Regions from separate parts of the Homo sapiens genome. Here region 2 is linked to region 1. The links come from fine-mapping of genetic effects on gene expression. Tissue or cell type: whole blood. Region 1 holds a variant in brackets; the other region holds the start of a gene. All regions are shown on one strand. Distances are from middle to middle.

Region 1 (8,104 bases):
GTGGCCATGCTCTGTCCTGCCTCCAAGCCTTGTGCCTGCTGACCACCCCCACTCAGAATGGAACACTCTTTTTCCATCTCTGCACCAGTTTTCACGTCTCCTGTCAAACATCCCTCTTTGGAGAGGCCCTCACTGACCTCCCTGGCTAAGTAGCCGCTCACGCCTCATTCGCCACCCTGCTACCCTGACCTTCATACCTTGACCTCTGCCTGAAACTGCCTCCTCTGAAGTTTACGCATCTCCATTTTTGTTGTCTGTCTCCTGCACAAGAAGATCAGCTGCACAAGAACAGGGGCTTTTGTCTCTTTTGTGCCCTGTTATGTCTCCAATGCCCAGATCGGGGACTGGCCCAGAGCAGGTGTTCAGCAAAGGAATGAATGAATGAATGAATGAATGAATGGAAGTTGGCTCCCATCTTTCCAGCCCTGCCTCCAACACCTCCAGCGAGACTGTGGTTCCTCTTCTCACAGTGGATTCCCACCCCCAAGCCGAGCCCAGGGCCCCTCGCGGGCATTTGGTGAAGTTATGGCCGTGTCCTGTTGCCCTTGCGTTAATGCTGCAGTGTCTGGCCTGGTTTCCCAGTTCTTTCCCTTCCCCAGCCGGCCCAGCTGTCAATTCCCACCACCCTCAACCCCCATCACCAATGCCGGTGCTTGCGCCCACCACAGACAGGTCCCACTTCCAGGCCCTGTGCCTACCTGAGGCCACTGTGAGGCATGTGGTGAGACTGACCTTGCCGGCAGGATTTGAGGGGAGCCAAGAAGCCAGCTTGGGAGGCATGACAACCGCAGTCATGGATGTTGCCACGAGGACCTGCATGTCCTTCACTATTATCCCTCTTGACCCCTGGTTGGGTGATAACTGACCTTATTTTTCAGATGACAAAATTGAGGCTCAGGAAAGTTAAGATTGTGCTCCAAGGTCACAGAGCAGGGAAGGGACGAGCTGCAATGGCTGCTGCACTTCCCTTATGGTAATAGCCTTATTATTCCTGTTGCTGCTGCTGGGTCCTGGGCTCCATCTCCAGGAGCCTTTCCCCTCGGCCCCTCCCACCCCTCCAGAGCCTCAGGCCACTCTTGCTGAATAAGGGTCTAGCCATTTACTGACCTGGGGCTGGTCCTCATCTGGAAAGCGGGATGGTGAGAGGCGGTAATGAGGGACCTGACACGTGGACGGGATCTGGGAAACGGCCGTAACAGGCCGTCCTTTCCTTTTCTCAGGGCTCCTGCCTGTGTGGAGAGATGATGGCTCCCCACCACTGCCACCTCCCCCACACCCCTGCCCACCCACGTCTCCCGCTCCCCGGGCTCACAGTCTGGGTAGAGGCTGTTTCAAACAGAAGACCAAGCATCTGCGGGAATCCAGACCAGACCCTAAGCCAGCTCCAGAGGGCTTCCTGGGGGAGAAGAGTTTTGACAAGAGTATCCAAGGCAGAAGAAACAGCCTGGGCAAAAGCCTGGAGGTGGGGAAATTGAGACCTCCTGGAGGCTGAGGAAGGCTGGAGGGAGGGAGGAGAACAAAGGGCCTTAACCAGCCATCAGGTGAGGGCAGCTAGGCCTTCCCCAGGGCCACATTATGACTTTCAAGCACCCAGGGCACTTTGGCCTAAATGAGTCCATTTATCCATAAAAAATAAAAACACTAAATACAAAAAATTAGCCGGGCGTGGTGGCGGGCACCTGTAGTCCCAGCTACTCGGGAGGCTGAGGCAGGAGAATGGTGTGAACCCAGGGGGCGGAGCTTGCAGTGAGCTGAGATTGCGCCACTGCACTCCAGCCTGGGCGGCAGAGTGAGACTCCATCTCAAACAAAACACAACAAAACAAAACAAAACAAAAACACTAAAAATATATTCTACGTCTTCACTGGAATAGAGAGAAATATAATTCGTTAGTCATCCACTCACCCATTCATCCCCTGTCCATCTTTCCGTTAGTCATCCACTCACCCATTCATGCCCTGCCCATCTATCTATCCCTTTGACTCCATTCACTCACCTCGCCAACCACCCACCCATCCATCCATCCATCCATCTATTCAGCTACGTTCCATTTATTCATTTACCCACTCACCCACTTATCCATCCATCCATCCCTCCATTCATCCATCCATCCATCCATTCATCCATTCATCCATCCATCCATTCATCCATCCATTCATCCATTCATCCAGCCACTTACCCACCCATGCATCCACCCATTCATTCATCCACCCACCCTTTCACCAATTCACCAATCCATCCATTCACCCACTCATTTATTCATCCATCAATTTATCCATCTACCCACCCACCCATCCATTCACCCATTCATCTATCTGTCCACTCACTCACACATCCATCCATCTTACCCACCCACCCATCCACTTATCCATTCATCTATCTATCCATTCATTCATCCACCCACCATTCATCTACCCATCCACTCAACCATGCACCTTCTCACCAATCCCCCACCCATCCATTCATCCATCAATTCATCCATCTATCTATACACCCACCCATCCACTCATCCATCCATCCATCTTTACATCCCTCTTAGCACTCCTGCTCACCCCATTCAATTGTCTGTTTCCCTGTAAATATACTCACCCGTCTGCCCACTCATCCATCTACTCATATTCCCTCTGTTTCCATTCTCCATTATTTACTATATCAGCCTCTGCAGTCATCTCTTTTCTCTGGAGATTTCTCTAGCATCTGATCCCGACCTTCCCATCATAAGCCCTCTCTTCACTTCCCATTGCTCACAGATACAAATCCAAACTTCAGACTTAGCTGGCTTTCAAGGCCCTGAAACTATTTTGTCTCTCCTCTCACTGCTCCCACCACGGATCCTGGAAGTTGTGTGGGCCCTGGGCACTGTGCCTACTGTGCCCTCCCTGGCTTTCCCTGCCAGCTGCGGCCTGTGCCTATGGGCTTGAGTCCAGAGAGGAGAAGTGAACCATGAACTTGGGAACAAGAGGGGAAAAGGTGAACAGGACCAGATTAATGCACCAGCCTCAGCTCCCCGCCTGTAATGAGGGGATGGAGTGCCGATGTCCTCCCCCACATTCTAGGCTGGTTTCTGGGCTCACTGAGCTGCCTTGAGGGCCAAGGTGGTGGGGATAATGGAGGGGGCTGATCACTCTTCCCTCTCTCCTGCCACTTACCCCTTAACAGCCTAGCCGATCTGGAACAGAAGGGAAGGGCCTGCTGTGGGAGGGGCAGCCCCATTAGCACTGTTTCTGGCCCCTAGGGAGCCAGGGGTCACCAGAGCCCAGCTGCAGGGCCATTAGCAGCCCATTAGCCCTGCCCCTCCTTCCCAGTCCCCACTCTGGCTCCATTCAGGACCTGCCCTTCACGGCAGAGCTTCTGCCCCTTCACCAACCCCTGCAGGCCTCAGAGGCCCCCTCCGAGGTCAACGTGTCAAGTTCCGGTCAGCCTGGGCAGGGCTGCAGCTGACCCTTGCAGAGCTGGGGAGGACAAAGGAAAGGGAACCCCTGCAGGTGTAAGTGGCTGGACCCTCTGAAAGGGCTTCATCCATCTCTGAGGCAGGTGGTAATGGCTAGTGGAGAGGTGTGTAAGCCATGGGGCCAGCGAGTCAGGTGCCTCTGTCGTCTTTGCCAAGAAGGGGTTGCATTGCTGATTTCTGACTCCCCTAGTGTATGTGAGTTGCTTTTTA[C/T]GGAGGAGCTGTGCCCCCTCAGTCAATCAATCAACACACTTTTGCTTGCTGAGCTAACAAAGTATTGGACCTCGAGAGGGAGAGCCAAGACCTTAGGCTCTCCTGGTTACATAATCCATTCATTCACTAGCAGATATTCAGTGAGTGCTCACTGTATGCCAGGCCCTGGAGCACAGCAGCAAGAGACACTCCAGTAGAGGAGAGGACAGTAAACACAGAAAACAATCAGTGGGACGATTTCTGGAAGGAAAGGGCTGTGCAGGAGATGAAGCAGGCATCATGAGACAGGCATGGGGTGGCTGTTGTAGTCTGAGGGTTTGGGGAGGCCTCTTACAGGAGACCTTTGAGCTGAGCCTGGGTGGTGAGAAGGAGCCTACCAAGTGGAGGGCAAGGACTGAAGGTCACAGGCAGTGGGACAGCAAGTGCAAGGGTCCCCGAGATGGGGACAGAAGCTAGCAAGCCCTGGAGGCTGGGGGAGGGGGAGGGAGGTGGGAGGTGGCAGAGGGAGGTCATAGATTCTCACTGCTATGCCAAGCCTTGAGGGCTCAGGTCTGATTCCAGTCTCCCAGAACTTCCTTGGCTGTGCATGGGGCTCACAGGGGCAGCAGGGAGGCCTGCAGGGGGTGGCCACTGCCTGAGTCCTGGTGAGCAACCATGGGGGCTCCGACCTGGTGGAGGTAGCAAAGGAGGGACTTGCATCTGCTGAGGTCTGAGCAGCCAGGAGTCAGAATCTTGTGAACCTCAGAATCAGACTCTCAGCATTAGAATTAGAATTAGGAGCTCTTAGCCCTGACATTTGAGGCTGGCGGGAAGCTCAGTGGGGACCGCACAATCTGGGCTGAGCCACACCCTAAAGCCAGCTATCTCACCCGGAAAACATTCCAGGCTGTGAAGGGCTGGATCCAGCCTGACTCGTGCTAAGTGCTTCACACATGTACTATTTGTTCCTCATGAGGACCTGATGAGACAGATGCCATTCTTCTCCCCATTTCCTAGATGAAGTCACTTGTTCCAGGTCACTAAGGGAGGGATAGGGTCCTCCTTCCCCAGGGGCGCCTGACCTCTGGGTGGGGTCAGCGTGGGAAGGGGGAAGGCGTGGCAGAAAGAGAGTGTGCCTGGAACAGTATTTTTAGCGCTGCCTGCCCTGCGTGCGAGGGGAGGGGAATTAGAGATGGCTTTCAGGGCAGGAAGAGCATGAAGTGATGTCTTAATTGGGATCCTCAAGGAGAAAAACAGTGTTACAAGCGCTCAATTATTTTATAATGAGCCTGCGGTGTGCAGGGAGAGCCACAGACATTTTCGAAGCTGAAGTGTGCGCCTGCATGTGTGTGTGTATGTGTGTGCATATGTGTGTGTGTGCATGTGTGCACGTGCATGTGCCCACAGGTGTATGGTGCTGAAGCGGGACTGTGGCAGGGTGGGACGGGCTCTTTCTCCTGATTTTGAGCAGTGGGCCCCTCACTTGTGCTGCCTTCTGCCCCTCAAGCCTCTTGTGGTGCCCCCGCCCACCAAGTCGCTCCCACAATGAGCCACCAGTGAGAGAACTTCAGGTTTTGCTGGGCAGGAGGATGCTGGAGCCTCAACAGGCCCTCCAGGAAGGGGAGACCTTGGGGAATTTCCACTAAGCTTCAAGACCTTTCTCTTTGCTGAGTAGAAAGGGGACTGGTTGTGAGCATCATGCTGAGCACAGGGAGAGGGCTGTGCTGGGAAGGAAGGACCCACACTCAGCTCCATCGGGGCCAGGACCCAGCTGACCACCCTGCCACAGTTCCCCACAGCCCTCCTGATGACGCCCCAGCTCACCGGGGGAACTTCTGTGACCTGCCTGCTGCCCCATGATGACCCTGCCCCATGCTCATCCAGCCAGATTCCTGCCTCCAGGCCTTTGCCTATGCTTTGCCACCACCTTGTCTCTGTTCAGGGCTGAAAAGCCTTCTGTCTCTTCCTTCGTGGCCTGGTTCAACTGCTTCTTCCTCTTTAGCAAAGCCCTTGTGTTTAACCTCACCCCAGCAGGGAGTCCCCAGCACGGTCCCTGCGTAAATCAGCTCCTGCCAGGCCACTTGGTCAGCGCATCTCGTTAACGGAGGCTGGGCTAAACTTGAGGAATTCTGAAATGAAGGTTTCCACAGCAGTGGGGTAGAGATCAGACTCTTTCCCCTAGGTGCTTTGGGGAGAGCTCAGCCCCCCAACATAGTGACCCTGAGCTGAGGCAAAGCAGAACAGGACATTAGTGTTTCTATTTCACATTGAAAAGGTTAAATTTCAAACTAACTTTTGAAAACATGATTTTTGTCTTCACTGCTACAGATAGGAATGAAACAGTGGCTGGGAAATGGGAAGTGGACAGAGAAGCATTGCTGAAAGGGGCTTGGGAACTGGCCCCAGGGTCCTCCACTTCCCCATCTGTGAAATGGAGACTCTAATGATGATTGTCTTCCTGGTCCCCAGGCCAAGATGAGGCCTCCAGGGAGGGAGAAGCTCTCATTACTGAGGCTCAGCAGTTCCTGAGAGTGGCTGTAATGGCATTGCGGGGGTGGCAGGGGCAGCAGCTCAGTGTCTCTAGACAGGGTTGGGGGCCCCTTGGAGTCCTTCCCACTGCCCTCCCCAGCCTTAGGGACCAGGTATCTAGATGCAGCTGCTGGAGTGGATGGAAGGACTTCCTGACCTCCAGCAGGAGCGGAGGTCTCCAGCGCTGTCACCCGAGGCCCGTAGAGGCTGGGGGCTGCAGCTTGAGGCTGTCGGGGCCTCAGAGCTCTGGGTGGGGAGCATTATACAATTTAACAAGCTGGAGAGTGGGGCTCCCAGAGGCCTGGGAAGAGGATAAGGAGGGAGCCCCCGGCCTGTGACCTCAGTCACTCACTAGCCATTCTTTTCTTTGCTCACTGATTCTCTTGTTCTTATCATCTGTTCCTCCCCCACCTTCATCTCAGCAAATGTTTCCCATTGCCTTTCATAGCCAAGCCCCTGCTGAGTGCTGGGGATGCAGACACAGTCTCTGGCCTTAGGCACCTCCAGTTGTTGGGAGAGGCAGACATGTTCCAGGAACCATCCAAAAGTGCAAGTGCAGCACCAGCTACCCTGAGGGCTTGCAGGGGAGCCAAGGGGGCTCCAGAGGCCTCTCCTCTGCCTTTTGACACCCAAATCGGCTCAGGTCACCCTTCTGTCAAACTTTCCCATGGATCCACTCTCTCCAGAAACAAAAGCAATGGCTCCCCAAGGCCTTGAGGCCCCCCGAACCCCACCCTAGCTCCCACCCCCCTGGCCCCCGCTCCCTCTGTTCAGCCACATAGGCTTTCCCTGGAGCTCCCCACACCAGTCCCATCTCAGGGCCTTCGCACATGCTGTTTCCTCTACCTGGTGCTGTTCCCCCATGCTCCTCCCTACCTCCTTCAGGTCTTTCTCAGTGAAACAACTGGTTCAACTTAACAGTGCAACCCCTCCCCCTGTTTTTCTCCATAACACATTATGCTCTAATTCCTCACTCAGCTTGTTTGTTCTCTCTCTCATGAACTAGAACTCCACCTGCACAAGGGTGGGGATTCTGTTTTGTTCACTGTCTTGTCCCCAGTAGTGGGCACAGTGCCTGGCATCCAGTGAGTGCCTAACAAATATCACTTCAGTGATTGACTTATTGATTAATTACCTGCAGGGCAGGCTGCCTACTCCAAGGTTGCTAGCCTGGAGTGGAGAGTAAGGGCTGAGGGGTGGATGGCTGCCCTACTCCCTCCTCTTTCTTCTTCTACCATGTGAGCCTTGAGGCCTCTTCTGGGTCCAGTGTAGAAGGTGAATATCCAGCTAAGTTTGACATTTAGTTTGACTGTGTCAGCAGTGGGGGGCAGAGAGGGGAGCTGTACTAGAAGGGTTGGGATCAGATGCTAGAAAAGTCTCTGGAAGTGAGAGATGAGTGAGAAAGCCCATGCTGTAAATGACGAAGAAAGGAAACTTATAGGCAGATGGATGAGCAGACAGATGGATGAGTGGAGAGGTACATGAGTAGATAGATGAATAAAGAGATGGATGGATGGATGAGTGGATAAATGGATAAGTGGGTGATGGAGAAATGGGTGGATGGATCAATAGGTGAATGAATGGATGAATGGATGGATGGATGATGGATGAATGAATAAATGAGTGGATGGATGAATGGGTGAATAGATGAATGAGTGGATGGATAGATTAGTGGACAGATAAAGGAGAAGATGGATGGATGAGTGGACAAATGCATGAAAAGATGCATGGATGGATGGATGATGGATGGATAAATGGATGGATGGATGGATGGATGAATGGATGTATGTATGAGTGAATGGATGGATGAAAGGTGAGAGGACAGATGAATCAGTGGATGGATGAATGGATGGATAGATGGATGAGTGAACAGATGGTGAGATGAATGGATGAATAGATAGATGGGTAGATGGATGAGTAGATGGATGAGTGGAC
Region 2 (8,104 bases), 190 kb after region 1:
GGCACTGTTGCCCAGGCTGAAGTACACTGGTGCGATCACGGCTCACTGCAGCCTAGACCTCCCGGGCTCAAGGATCCTCCCACCTCAGCCTCCTGAGTAGCTGTGTCTATCAGCAGTGCCACCACTCCCAGCTAATTTTTAAATTTTTTGTAGAGATGGGGTTTCACCATGTTGCCCAGGCTGGTCTCTAACTCCTAGCTCAAGTGATCTGCCCACCTTAACCTCCCAAAGTGCTGGGATTACCGCTGTAAGCCATTATGCTGGGCAAGAGTTTTCAAACTACGGTAAAATTCAAGTTACAGATACCTTTGGGAAATGCCTCATTCTAAGTATTTGAAGCTTCCAGATAGCTAAGATTAAAAATTTTTACATACTAACTTGTTTCTAAGTGTATGCTTTTACATTTAAACAAACTAAAAACATAAGCTTTATAAAAAAATTTCAGCCATTTCCAAATTCTCTTCCAAACTTGTTTAGAAACATACATGACAGAGCTTTGGTCGGATTGTGCAAACTGTTGTGTGTTCTGTTTTTAAAATATTACTTAACTTGTACACTTCCACACATTGGCATGGCACATCATTGCCATTTCCAATACGTTCCTGTGCTTCACCAATTTCCATAGCTGTCAGAGGGAGAGCAGCCCAGGTGACAGGAAATGAAGTTGTCTGGCTCCGAGTCCTTACTAGGAGGACTTCTGGGATCCAGAATCTTTGCATGGGGCAGATGACATATTCTTAGAGGCCATTCATTTTTTCCACTGTAGCTGCTAGTGCCAGTTTCCACTCCACTGCCTGAGGGCAGGTTGATCTTGTAAGCCATCACCGATGGATTTGTGGTCACTGCCTGGAACCCTGTGCCAAAGAGGACTGGGAGGTCCCATTCAGGAGGGAATCCTCTGACTTATTACTGGCATCTGAGCATCTCCCAGCATGGCTGTTCCTACTTGTAATAAGGTGATGTCAAATGACTCCAGGGCAGTGCTCCGGTTCCCATGAACACATCTGGTCACTCTGGGAGCTTTTGAGTCAGTGAGCTCTCTCCTCACATCCCGATACACTGTTGTTTGCAAAAATATATTTTTATAGGCAAGGTATTTGTGTTTTGGATTTGCACCCTGATGCAGGCATTAATTTGTTTAAAAGGATAATTTAACATTTTCAGGAAGCTGAACATCTTTAAATTCTCTTTTGATTATTTCTAGTTTTATTGCATTATGACCCAGAAATGTGTACAATTTTTGTTCTTGTATACTCACTAAGGATTCTTCTTGTTTTCAGAGTAGGACCAAAGGTATTTCTATTTGTTTGCAAGTCTGTTGGCTCAGTTTCTAAAGAGTTCATTTTGTTACCATGTTCTTTTAAGTATATACATACAGGTTAGTTACGTTTCCAGTTTCCTGTGCTTTTTATTTTTTTTTTAAACAAGCTTTTCTGGCCCTTCATTCTCTCAGACTTTTCCTTCCATGCCTTATGCTGTAGATAAAGTCTATGATCTAACGTCTGTCAGTTAAGATTGTTTTCAGCTCTGGAGACCAGAAAATCTGACCCACATAGCAAGAACAAGCAAGGGCAGGAGATGAGGCTGAAGAGGCAGGCACCAGGTTGTCTGAGCTTTTATTCTACTGCAATGAGTAGATAGTGGCAGGGTTTACACAGGGGTGGGGGTATGCCTATATCATGTTTTAACATTTTCAAGAGATCACTCTGGATGCTTGAGTGGAGGCTGGACTGTAGCAGGGCAAGACAAGATGCAGGGAGGTTGGAGGATTCTTGGCAGTAGCCCAGTAGGAGAGGAAGGTGACTGAAACTGGTTGTGGAAATGGAGATGGTGAATCAGGATGCTGGTTGCACTCAAGAGCCACAGGACTTGCTGTGTGGTTGCATGGGGGTTGGGGGAGAAGGGAAAAGAGTCAGGGATGACTCTTGGTGCTCCCCTCAGGGAAGAGGCCCCAAGCCTAGTGGTTATCAACAGATGGATGGTATTTAAAGCTATGAGACTGTGTGGGATCATTCTGAGAGGATCACTAGAGATCTGGTGGAGGAGGAGCAGGAGGATGAGGATAAAGGTGAGAGGGAATCCAGGAGGGAAGGTCCCTAAAATCCAGAAGAAAGGGTGGAACTCCTCAATTGTATCGTCTGTGTCAAATGCAGCTAAATGACTGAGATAAAAGTCGTTTCAGCAAAGTACCTTGGAGGAAAGCTGGAAAGGAGTGGGTGCAAGAGAGGACATGAGGTGAGGAAGTTGCATGGAGCAGAGAAACAGAATGGTAAATGGAGAGAAACCTGGGGTTAAAAAAGGTCTATTTGTTTAATGCACAGCATTAAGGAATGCTTGTGTGTGGACACTAGCAAAAAATCAGTACAGAGAACCCCAGAATTCTGGGGTCATAGCCCGAAAGGACTCCTCAGCTCCAAATTTACTTGAAGTTACAGCTTCCATCTTTAAATTAAATGGGATTTTTTTTTTTTTTGCCATCTATTTCATCATACAGGATGTGACACAGAATATATCTGAAAGTATAACTTTCCTGGAAGAACACATCTTAGTTTTTAATATCTAAACTGTATAGCAGCTATTTATCTCACAAAACATTTTTCAGGCTGAGTGCGGTTGGTGACTCACGCCTGTGATTCCAGCACTTTGGGAGGCCAAGGCAGGAAAATTGCTTGAGTCTAGAAGTTCGAGGCCAGCCTGGGCAATGTGGGGAGATGTAGTTTCTACAAAAAATTTAGAAATTAACAGGCATGGTGGCACAAACCTGTGGTCTCAGCTACTGGGGAGGCTGAAGCAGGTGGATCGCTGGAACCCCTTTCGTGGTGCAGTTTGGGCAAAAGAGCAAGAACCTGTCTCAAATTTTTTGGCTGATGGTTGTAGACATAATGTTTGAGCTTTCAAAAATTACAACATTTTAAACTAAATAGTTTGCTGGAAAAAACCACATGTTCCTTCCAGAAACAACTGGTAGACCATCAGGATCATGACAGTCACTTCAAAAAGCTTTGGTGTGTTGACAAAGGGGAGGTTCACGTGTGATGTTGCTGGTCGCACAGCTACTGCATCCAAGGCAAATGCATGTTAACAACCATATCAAATGTGGGTGACCAAGTGGCAACATTTAAGCATTTTACATCCTAACTTATGTGCAACTTAAACCTACTGCCACACTGTGAGTTAGGAAATTGGTAGGTTTTTTTCTATTGACTTGTTGTGCCCTATAATTTTTCCTATTTAAAATAATGGGAAACAAGTTTTCAGTTTTTTTCTCAGAAAAAGTCTGACATTTCAGGCACAGATATGTCTGACAGTTATTACCAGCAGAAGAGTTTCTAGCCTTTTCATCGTAAAATTTTAATTACTTACCTTGGAAATTACTTAACTTCGTTCCTTCCAAATCTGGTAGTAAAATGGGTGCTCCAGAAAGCTGTGGCACGGATATTCTGCTGCTTTGCTCGTCTCTGCACAGACCTGGGGCTTGAGGAGCCTGCAGCCACGAAGTACAGGACGTCATCAGAATGGAAAAGCGATCCAGATGGTCCCGCAGGCGCAGTGCTGGGGCGTAAAGTGCAGCCTGTGCACGGCGGGTGGGAGGCGCGCGGGCTCGCCGGGGCTCGGGACTGTGTTCTTGCAGCCGAGAGGCCCACACAGGACAAGGAGGCCTGACCCAGGCTGTTGGAGCCCGCGAAGAGGGGGTGAAACTCCAAGGGGCGTAAGGGTGATCACACGTGCGGCCAAGCTTCCCGTCTGCATGGCGAGGGGCTGGGCCTTTCCGTCGTGATTTTTCTCCCATTATGCCGGGCGCGTAGCGGGCCCTGGGGCGGCGGGACCGGTGCGGGCGTTCAGTCAGCCCGGGGTCCTGGAGGCCGGCGGGGGGATTCGCAGCAGCCCGAGGGACGGATGGATGGCAGAAAGGAGTCTCTACTTCCAGGTTCCCAGTGATCGCTATGTTCCTTACAAGCAGTAAACTCACGACTTCAGACACCCGCCACGGAGCTCCGCGCGCAGTCCTCAAACAGCCAGCCACGCCGGCCGGGCGCACAGCGCATGCCCCGGGGTCGGGGCGGGGCGGAGGAGACGGGGCGGGGCGGAGGGGACGGGGCGGGGCGGAGGGGACGAGGCGGAGCCGGGCGGGGTTGAGGGGACGGGGCGGGGCTTGGCGGGGGCGGAGCCGCCCAGCGCTGAATCCAAATCGTATCTAAGCTATTTTCTAGCTCTGACATCGTATACATCACTGCATACGTGAATAGCATGCCAAATACTGTATAAACCAATACTGGTTTTTTTCTTCTCGGGAGGTACTATATAAATAAAGCACGTACACGGTATCTAATATCAGAACATTCAAATCCCATATTGAAAAGATTATAAATTGACCATAATCCTATAATTCTGTTTAGCAACAGTGCGTTCCTTCTCAGTCTTCACTTTTAAAATATCTAAGAGGCTCGATGTCTTGAGGCTTTTTCTTTTTAAACCCAACATCCTTTTTCACATTTATTAGTTTAGTACTTTGGTTTTACTCAATAAAAAGGTGGGGTTAAAAAAATCTGAATTATTCTGCAATGTTTCAGGCAACAGAGGCTGAAAACAACACTGTTAAGGCGGGGGGACAATTCTTATACTCTGTGAGTCTTCTTGTTTAATTTTCATTAAATTTCCAGAATAATAAGCGTAGGATAGCTAACGTTTGTCTTTGCGTCGTAGATTAGTTAACCTTTACTGAATTCACAATATGGCATCAGAGATTTAATCTGCATTTCCTAATTCTTATAAATTAAAGCTGAAGTTTAAGCTTCATTCGCACGTCACAAATACCACTTGCCCTGAATAAATAATGTTTTTAGAAGTGAGCATTCCTGATCTCCCTGTTTGTTAAGAATTGTCTTCTTTTTTCAGCTGCTACTCTGCTAAGACAAGAGTTAGCCCCTGAGCTATGTTATCAGTTCAAGGCTTTGCAGATAGCGCTGTATCGTGGGGGAAAAATGAACATGGTTTTCAAAAAGGAGGAGAACATTTCTATAACGTTGAGACTTTTAGTAATCAGGGCTATTGATGTCAGATGGCTGTTGGGACAAATGACATCATAAAAAATACAAAATTTAAAATTATGTTTGTTTATGTTTGTTTGTTTTCAGATTTCTTAGTAGTAAAGGGGCTGTGTTTTCACTCAGGCTTATATGATGATGACATTTCTCAGACCAGCAGCTATCTGCTAGCATTCTGTCCTGGACTTGGGGTGCACCTGTGACAGTAGCTGGGCTTGTCATCCAGTGAATAGCTCATAGTTGACTCCTCTCCATCAGTATAAGCATGGGTGTGGGTGACTGCATGGTAGAGGGGGCCGGGGTAGCCAGGGACCAGAGGTTAGTGAACCATTGGGTAAGATGTATAACTGTTACTCAGGCTCATAATTTTTCAACTTTTTCAGATAGTAATAACAAGAAAGTCCATCCTTACCAGTGTCAGTCTCTGTTTTAAGTGTTGTTCATATATTACCTCATTTAATTATCACACCAACCCTATGAGACTCAGAATGTAAATAGGCTACTGAGGTCACATTGCTGGTGGATCTTAATCTCAGGCCAGCTTGGCTCCTAAGTGTGTGTTCTCACTCTATTGCCTCTAGAACAGGAAGGAATATATGGATACTGTAAATTGTTAAAGAACAAGTTGAAAGAATTTTATTTCCGGCAACATGGGCTGACAAGAACCAGAAAACAACAAAAACTTCTGGAATACATATCAAGAACCATTTTAAAAAATGTATCAATGAGCTGCAAAATAATTAAGAGTTCGCAAAGGCAAAAAAATTAAAATTAAAAAGTGAAAGTAGAAACCCAAAGAAGTAATTAGATGCCATTTTTCACCCTTAAGATAGTTGCCAAGTGTCATACTGAAACTCTCTTTTCATAGTCTGGGAAGAGGATGGGGCAGCAGAATAGCAGACAAAGTTTAGATCCTGTCCAAGGTAGGACGGTTAGCAGAAGACATCAAAAGTAGGACACCAGCCGGGCGCGGTGGCTCAAGCCTGTAATCGCAGCACTTTGGGAGGCTGAGGCGGGCGGATCACGAATTCAGGAGATCGAGACTACCCTGGCTAACACGGTGAAACCCCATCTCTACTAAAAATACAACAATTAGCCGGGCGTAGTGGCGGGCGCCTGTAGTCCCAGCTACTCGGGAGGCTGAGGCAGGAGAATGGCGTGAACCCGGGAGGTGGAGGTTGCAGTGAGCCGAGATTGCGCCACTGCACTCCAGCCTGGGCGACAGAGCCAGACTCTGTCTCAAAAAAAAAAAAAAAAAAAAAAAAAAAAAAAGTAGGACACCAAAAAGATAGGTTTAGTGTAGGAGGGAACTATGAATCAACCTGTCTGCCTCCCCTGTCTCCTGCCCCCTCAATCCCTGCAGCCCCTGGAGCAGCAGACAAGATTATCCATCCTGAGGGAAAACATCCCTCCTGAGAGTGAGGATACATTAATATATAACCATGGGCAGCCCTTCCACTGGTGGCTTCACACACAAACTGTATAATCTAAAAAGTCTCAAGCTGCAAATTTAAAGTGACATCAGGTTTTTAATGCCTTCCAGGTGCCTGGCAAAAGCAAAATGGAAGACAGCTTCATGGAATGTAAGTTTTTAATCAAAAATCACAAACATTTATAATGGGCAAGAGCCAGCAGAAACAATGTACAGAGGAGAAAACCTACAGAGACTTAAGATATTAGAGTCACCAAACATCACATAAAGTGTGTCTTACATGTAAAGAAACAAGGGGATTAAAGAGCATGAGTATGAAAATAACCAAGTAGATTGGGAAAAATTACCAAATAGAAATCTAGATTTGAAAAATACCATAATTGAAATGGAAAGTTTAATGGATTAGTGTCACAGCCAACTAGATACTACCAAAAAGAGAATAATGGATATGAAGAAATAAAGACATTTTTAGACTTGTAAAGACTTAAGACTTTCTTACCTGGAGACCTGCACCACAAGAAAAATTAAAGGATGTCTTTTAGGCCTTAAGAAGGATACCATATTGAAATCTAGATCTGCACAAAGGAATGAAGAACACTGGAAATAGTAACAACATGGACAAATATATGATTTGTTATTATTACTTAAGCCTCTTTAAAATATAATTGTTTAAACAAAAATAATAAAGTACTATGGAATTTACAACATGTAAAATAAAATGGATGACAGTCATAGCTTAAAGACTAGGAGGGAAGAAGTATACTGATGTAAGTTTCTTATACTAAAATGATATATTATCACTTGAAGGTAGACTGTGATCAGTTGAAGACATGCACTATAAACACTAAAGCAACCACTAAAATAACAAGCCAAAGAATTGTAGCTGTTCAGGATAACACAAACAATCTCATCAAAAAGTGGACTAAGGACATGAATAGACAATTCTCAAAAGAAGATATACTAATGGCCAACAAACATATGAAAAAAATGCTCAACTTCACTAATTATCAGAGAAATGCAAATCAAAACCACAACACGATACCACCTTAATCCTGCAAGAATGACCATAATAAAAGAATCAAAAAATTAAAATAGATGTTGGTGTGGATGTGGTGAGAAGGGAACACTTTTACACTGTTGGTGGGAATGTAAACTAATACAACCACTATGGAAAACAGTGTGGCGATTCCTTAAAGAACTAAAAGTAGATCTACCACTTGATCCAGCAATCCCACTTCTGGTTATCTACCCAGAGGAAAATAAATCATTACATGAAAAAGATACTTGCACATGCATGTTTATAGCAGCATCATTCACAATTGCAAAAATAAGGAACCAGCCCAAATGCTCATCGATCAACGAGTGAATAAAGAAAATGTGGCATATATGTGTATATGTATGTATGTGTGTATATGTATGTATGTGTGTATATATATGTGTGTGTGTGTGTGTATATATATATACACACACACACGCATACATACCATGGAATACTACTTAGCCATAAAAAGGAACGAAATAATGGCATTTGCAACAACCTGGATGGAATTGGAGACCATTATCCCAAGTGAAGTAGCTCGGAAATGGAAAACCAAACATTGTATATTGTTACTCGTAAGTGGGAGCT

What was found. PIP is the estimated chance that this variant, and not a neighbour inherited with it, causes the effect.
Region 2: LINC02693 starts here. The variant in region 1 is fine-mapped to the expression of LINC02693 in whole blood (TOPMed, PIP 0.98).

The regions. Positions count from the first base shown.
Region 1 is chr17:21,354,587-21,362,690 of GRCh38, forward strand. No RefSeq gene overlaps it. Among named protein-coding and RNA genes, the nearest start is that of KCNJ12, 18 kb to the right of the region's middle. RefSeq lists enhancers at 2,674-3,244, 3,245-3,815, 4,879-5,589. The variant C/T (reference allele first, on the strand shown) is at 3,662.
Region 2 is chr17:21,547,633-21,555,736 of GRCh38, forward strand. It overlaps LINC02693 (long intergenic non-protein coding RNA 2693), which reads right to left and starts at 4,046. Exons shown (of 2, transcript NR_160801.1): 1 at 3,364-4,046. RefSeq lists a silencer at 3,940-4,109.